Linked DNA regions of Homo sapiens: region 2 is linked to region 1. The links come from fine-mapping of genetic effects on gene expression. A gene starts in region 1. The other region holds a variant in brackets. All regions are shown on one strand. Distances are from middle to middle.

Region 1 (2,901 bases):
AGGCTTCTTTACATGCCTTTACGTGCCAATGAGAAGAAATAGATATTAAACCAGACTTGAACCCAGCTCTCGAGTTGATAGCCAGGTACATGGTTATTCTAACATCCGCAAAACTGAGACAAGTTCTGTGGTAGTATATGCCTTAAAAAAAAAAAGAAACGAGCGGGGGACTCCGGGATGATTTTGTTGTTCTAGAACAGTGACCACAGCCTCACACTCTGCAGGAAAAGACTGGGTCGCAAACAAGTCAGAGGCAAACCCAGAAAGGGAACTGGGGGCCCTAATCCTATAAACGGAATTAAGGGTGTAAACGGAGAGCGATGCCTGGGAGTGGGGTACCTTGCAGAGCATACCGGGGGTTGTAGTCGGGGACATTCCACAGCACCGCCCCCGCCCGGACTCCCGGCGCTCCAGGTGGAGACAGCAGCTTGACCCCGCCTCCCGCGAGCGACCCTACATGAATATGAGGCTAGCGCCCCCTTTTCTGAGCCTTAGAGTTTCCAAGAGCAACGGGGAGAGAGAGGGGGGCTTCGCAGTTACCCTGGAGACGCGCTCTCGCCCGCCCCCAGCCGCGGGATGCCCTAGATGTCCTTATTAGGACAAGAGACTCGAGGGGGCGGGGCCAGCCCGACAGCCGGCTTGAGGCTCCTTATAAGGCCGCGGCGGGCGGGAGGCGGGAGCCGGAGCCCATTGGTCCAATTTAGCTTGGCTGGGGCTACTGCGCCGTGGGCTAGGCACAGTCCTGAGGGGCGGGACTGGAGCTCTGGCGCCCACCTCTCCCTTCCTCGCAGGCTGGAGACCTGCGTGTTGCGACTTCCGGCATAGCAGCTAGAGGCCGGGTGCTGCTTCAAACCCTGGCGGGTCGCCTGTGTCCAACTCAGCTATACGTGTCTTTCAGGCTTCTCAGGTTGAAGCCCTTTGTAGGGTTTCCATCTTCAACCTCCCTGAGGGTCTCCCACTTCCGATTAGCCACAAAAATGACGAAGTGTTCTCCCCTCTACCTGTGTCTGGGCTTCTTAACCCGCAGCCTGCTCCTCCGCTCCCAAACCCAACCGCGTGCCCATCTCAGGCCTCCCCAACTGCCAGGATGCCCAAGCACCTCTTACTTACAGTCCTCCTTCCTCTAGGCCTCTGACCCCCGACATTCCGAGTTCTATTTTGGGCCTTCTCGGCACGTCCCCGACTTCCTCTCCACCACACACTCTTTGCCCTGTATCCCGGGGATGAGGATCACCATTTCCTCCAAGGGTCCTGCAGCTCCTCCTGCCTTACCTTTGTGTCCTCATCCCCGGCACCCATTTCTGGGTGTCCCTCCCACCAATACGTTTGCACCCGTTTGTCTCCTAGCCCCCGCCTCTCCTGGACTCTTTTCAAGACCAGTCTCCATCTCCAGCCTCCTTCAAGCTTGAGGCTGAAGCTGACAATCTTAAGAGACCTTAGAGCCGCCAAGCTCAGGTTAGTCCGTTAAGCGCCGCCCAGCCAGTCCTCCCCGTCACAGGGGGCGCTGTCCGCCTTCCTCTCGCCTACACAAAGACCCCGCTCTCGAATCTGGGGTGACAGGAAGGAGCCGGTCCAGGCTCCGGGGGCTGGGAAAGGGCGCGTCTCAAAGGCTGGCTGGAGTGGAGCCAAGGGAAAAGATCGTTAGAGACAGCGCCCCTGACCAACCACTTAGAGCAGCGCAGGGGTGGGAGGGCGGCCGCAGGCTCTCCTCTCGTTAGTGCCCCCTGTGTTTGGGGCCCCGTGATCTCAACGGTCCTGCCCTCGGTCTCCCTCTTCCCCCGCCCCGCCCTGGGCCAGGTGTTCGAATCCCGACTCCAGAACTGGCGGCGTCCCAGTCCCGCGGGCGTGGAGCGCCGGAGGACCCGCCCTCGGGCTCATGGCGGCCCCGGTCCGCCTGGGCCGGAAGCGCCCGCTGCCTGCCTGTCCCAACCCGCTCTTCGTTCGCTGGCTGACCGAGTGGCGGGACGAGGCGACCCGCAGCAGGCGCCGCACGCGCTTCGTATTTCAGAAGGTGGGTCCTGGCGTGGCCCGATGGGAAAAGCTGCTGGCCAGGTCAGGCCTGCCCTGACCAGGTACCCTACCCCTGCCCGGCCAGGCGCTGCGTTCCCTCCGACGGTACCCACTGCCGCTGCGCAGCGGGAAGGAAGCTAAGATCCTACAGCACTTCGGAGACGGGCTCTGCCGGATGCTGGACGAGCGGCTGCAGCGGCACCGAACATCGGGCGGTGAGCGCCTCGGAAAGGGGTCGGTGATCCCCCACCTCCCCCAGGTGGAGCCTCCGTACTCTCCTGGGAGCCCTTGGCTTTTAAGCTCCCCACTCCTGTCCCAGTTGCCGTTCGGCCTAGGGCTAGTGGCTGGCGCTCCCTGAGCCTCCCTCACCGGTCTCACGTAACCATCTGAGTAGGTTGCATCCCAGATCCTCGCAGCTGCCGGATTCGTGGAGTGTGGAGTTAACTCTTTTCTCTCCCGCAGGTGACCATGCCCCGGACTCACCATCTGGAGAGAACAGTCCAGCCCCGCAGGGGCGACTTGCGGAAGTCCAGGACTCTTCCATGCCAGTGAGGAAGGGGCAAGGGGAGTGGAAGGCAAAGTGGGAGTGCGGGAGTATGATTTTCTGGCTTGGGGGATTTGGCAAGCCTGAGTCCAAATCTCACCAGTGATGCCTGGCCTTGAGCAAATGACTTATCCTCTTTTCGACTTAGTATTTTAACCTGTGAATAGAAATATTGGTAACAGCCAATGAGAGAATTCCATGATCAAGCTACTTAAGGATCCCAGCTCAGTTAGTTACGGGGTCACCATTATTGAGTTTTCCTGTCTAATTACACCTGTCCTGCAGCGCATGGTAGAAGTGAGGCCAGGCTGGGCAGACACCCCCACCCACTGCCCCGAAACTGCCTG
Region 2 (2,901 bases), 840 kb before region 1:
CTTCTCAGCAGATGCCCAGAGGGGCCCGTGGCCCCAGAGGGAAACCAGAGGCAGGATCCCTTCCTTCTCTGGGCCCCCACCATGGGAGGCCCATGGTGCCAGAGGCAGGACACATGCTGTGGACTGAGATTGAGTTAACGTCCCTGTGGTGTTACTACGTCACTACCCTGAGCATCAGTTTCTATGCCTTGAAATGGTGATGATGACACCCACATCACTGGGCTTTAGGGAGGATAACCCAAGGCCAGTATGAAGCTTCGAGAGGCCATGGAGCCTGGCTCAAGAGTCTGACTCTTTGCTGTGTGACCTCAGCTGGGGGTGGTGGCACGCACCTATAGTCCTAGCTACTCTGGAGGCTCAGACAGGAGGATCAGTTGAGCCCAGGAGGTTGAGGCTGCAGTGAGCTGTGATCGTGCCACTGCACTCCAGCCTCCTGGGCGACAGAGCAAGACCCTGTCTCAAAAAAAAAAAAAAAGGAAGGGGCCAGGTGCGGTGGCTCACGCCTGTAATCCCAGCACTTTGGGAGGCTGAAGCGGGCGGATCACGAGGTCAGGAGATCGAGACCGTCCTGGCTAACATGGTGAAACCCCGTGTCTACTAAAAATACAAAAAATTAGCCAGGCATGGTGGCGGGCGCCTGTAGTCCCAGCTACTCAGGAGGCTGAGGCAGGAAAATGGCGTGAACCTGGGAGGCGGAGCTTGCAGTGAGCCGAGATTGTGCCACTGCACTCCAGCCTGGGCAACAGAGTGAGACTCCGTCTCAAAAAAAAAAAAGAAGGACACTTGCAAAGATAGTACAGAGGTCAGAGGTCCCCCATATACCCTTTACCTTGCTTCCCCATCTTACCTAACCGTGGCCTGTCCAAACTAATAAATCAACACTGGTGAATTACTATTATCTTAATTACAGATTTTATTTGAATTTCACGTTTTTCCACTAATATACTTTTTGTGTTCCAATGTTTGATTCAGGCTACAAAATTGCATTTAGTTGAAAATGAGGACACTTGTGAGAGTGAAAGGGGGGATTCTGCAGGCAGAGTGGGGACTGTCCTGGGCACACCGCACACATCTCCTATGTGGGTGGAGCAGGTCAGATGAGATCAGGGCCGTCAAATGCTGGTCAAGGCAGGTCAAGGCCCAAGGGTTAGACCCGTCCACCCACATCTCTCCCAATCACAGACACATATGTGGAAACAACTAGAATCAGAGGTGGACAGTGAGGCCTGTCGGGAGTGGAACGGTTAAAGGGCTGTGTGAACCCAGAAGAGGGAGAGTTCACATCCTCTGTGCATGTCTGGTCATCAGATTGGAGCAGTCTAGAACCACGGAGAGCTCAGGGATCATCTTATGCAACACCCCTCCCTGTTCATGGAAGAGGAAGCTGGAGCATGGGGACAGCGGTGTCCCCTGGGTGGTGGTTGGCTGGAACCAGAACCCTGGCCCAGGGCTGCTCCATTCATGTGGGCCAGCCTTGATGGCTACGTCCACAAACTCACTCCTGGG[C/G]CTCTCCCACCACCACGGGGCCTCACCTTGATCTTCCAGGTCGATCCTTCACCCCAGATGCTCTGGGCCATTAGAGGAGGGGTCAGGCTGTCCTCTGAGTCCCCACCCCACCCCTCTATCTTTTCTCCCCCAGCGCCTGGCCGGAGCAACCCTCCTCATCTTTGCTAATAAGCAGGACCTGCCTGGAGCACTGTCCTCTAACGCCATCCGCGAGGTGAGTCCAGGCCCCGGGACAGGCTCGCTGAGGGAAAGGGGCATACATTTATTTATTTTAAAAGCATTTATTAAAAATAACCAAAAAGGCTGGGTGCAGTGGCTCACGCCTGTAATACCAGCACTTTGGGAGGCCAAGGCGAGTGGATCACCTGAGGTCAGGAGTTCGAGACCAGCCTGACCAACATGATGAAACCCCGTCTGTACTAAAAATACAAAAATTAGCTGGGTGCAGTGGCGTGCGCCTGTAAGCCCAGCTACTCAGGAGGCTGAGACAGGAGAATCGCTTGAACCCAGGACGTGGAGGTTGCAGTGAGCCAAGATTGCGCCATTGTACTCTAGCCTGTGGGAAAAGAGTGAGACTTCGTCTCAAAAAAAAAAAAAAAAAGAAAGAAGTAAAATAATAATAAGAAAAGCATTTATTAGCCTAGCCCTGCTAGGTGGCAGGACCTATGCAGGGCACTGGGGATCCAGTGATTAATAAGGCATGGGGTGGCCCACAGCCTGGGGAAGGCAGAGCTGCGCATGTGTTGTTCACAGGCTAACGGTAGCCAGCACAAGTCAGTGCTTTCAGTATGCTCTGCTCCTTGCATGGATTAACTCATTTCATTCTCACAACCACCTCATGAGGTGAGAACTATTATTTTACAGATGGTGAAGCAGGCTCACAGAGGTTAGGTAACTTGTCCCAGGTCACACAGCCACTAAATAGACAGGAAGCCTGTGTCTGACCCCAGAGCCCACATTTTAACCATGATTCTAGTGCTCAAGCACCACAGTGAGAAAGAGCAGGGTTAAAATCTTGGCTCTGCCACTTATGAGCTATGTTCCCCTAGGCAGGTTGCTTAACCTCTCTGAACTTTGGTTTCCTCCTTGGTGAAATGGTCGACACAATCCCTGGCTCATGAGGGCTTGAGGAGAATGAGTGAGAGAGGGTGTGTGGGGCTCCTAGCACGATGCCCGGATCCTGGTGGATGCTCAGGAGCCCATGCTGCATTTACATCACTAAGGGGCAGCACTGGCATGGAACTGGACAGAGAGCCCAGGTGCCCCTGGGGTCTGACAAACTCTCCCTGGGACCGGCGGGGCTTCCTGGATGGGATGACATGGAGCAGGGCCTTGAGGAAGGCGTGGAGTTCCTCTGGGCTGGGGAGGGAAGGGGCTGACGGCAGGCAGGGTCTG

Which allele goes with the higher level. Alleles are on the strand shown, and positions count from the first base shown. SD is a standard deviation of normalised expression in the study named.
In carriers of allele C in region 2, the expression in monocytes after interferon gamma of the gene that starts at base 1,556 in region 1 tends to be higher than with G alone (large effect, 1.3 SD a copy in Fairfax 2014).

Evidence for each region. PIP is the estimated chance that this variant, and not a neighbour inherited with it, causes the effect. A credible set is the group of variants that fine-mapping cannot tell apart.
Region 2: its variant is the best candidate, but not a certain one, in a credible set for the expression of MUS81 in monocytes after interferon gamma (Fairfax 2014, PIP 0.55).

Annotation. Positions count from the first base shown.
Region 1 is chr11:65,858,878-65,861,778 of GRCh38, forward strand. MUS81 (MUS81 structure-specific endonuclease subunit) reads left to right here and starts at 1,556. Exons shown (of 16, transcript NM_025128.5): 1 at 1,556-2,011; 2 at 2,096-2,225; 3 at 2,473-2,558. The coding sequence starts at 1,877. RefSeq lists enhancers at 419-508, 1,029-1,078, 1,209-1,298, 1,579-2,118, 2,811-2,901 and silencers at 679-758, 1,809-1,968, 2,139-2,228.
Region 2 is chr11:65,018,780-65,021,680 of GRCh38, forward strand. It overlaps ARL2 (ARF like GTPase 2), which reads left to right. Exons shown (of 5, transcript NM_001667.4): 4 at 1,640-1,720. The region is part of intron 3 of ARL2-SNX15 (ARL2-SNX15 readthrough (NMD candidate)); the gene reads left to right. Among named protein-coding and RNA genes, the nearest start is that of MIR6879, 1.7 kb to the left of the region's middle. The variant C/G (reference allele first, on the strand shown) is at 1,507.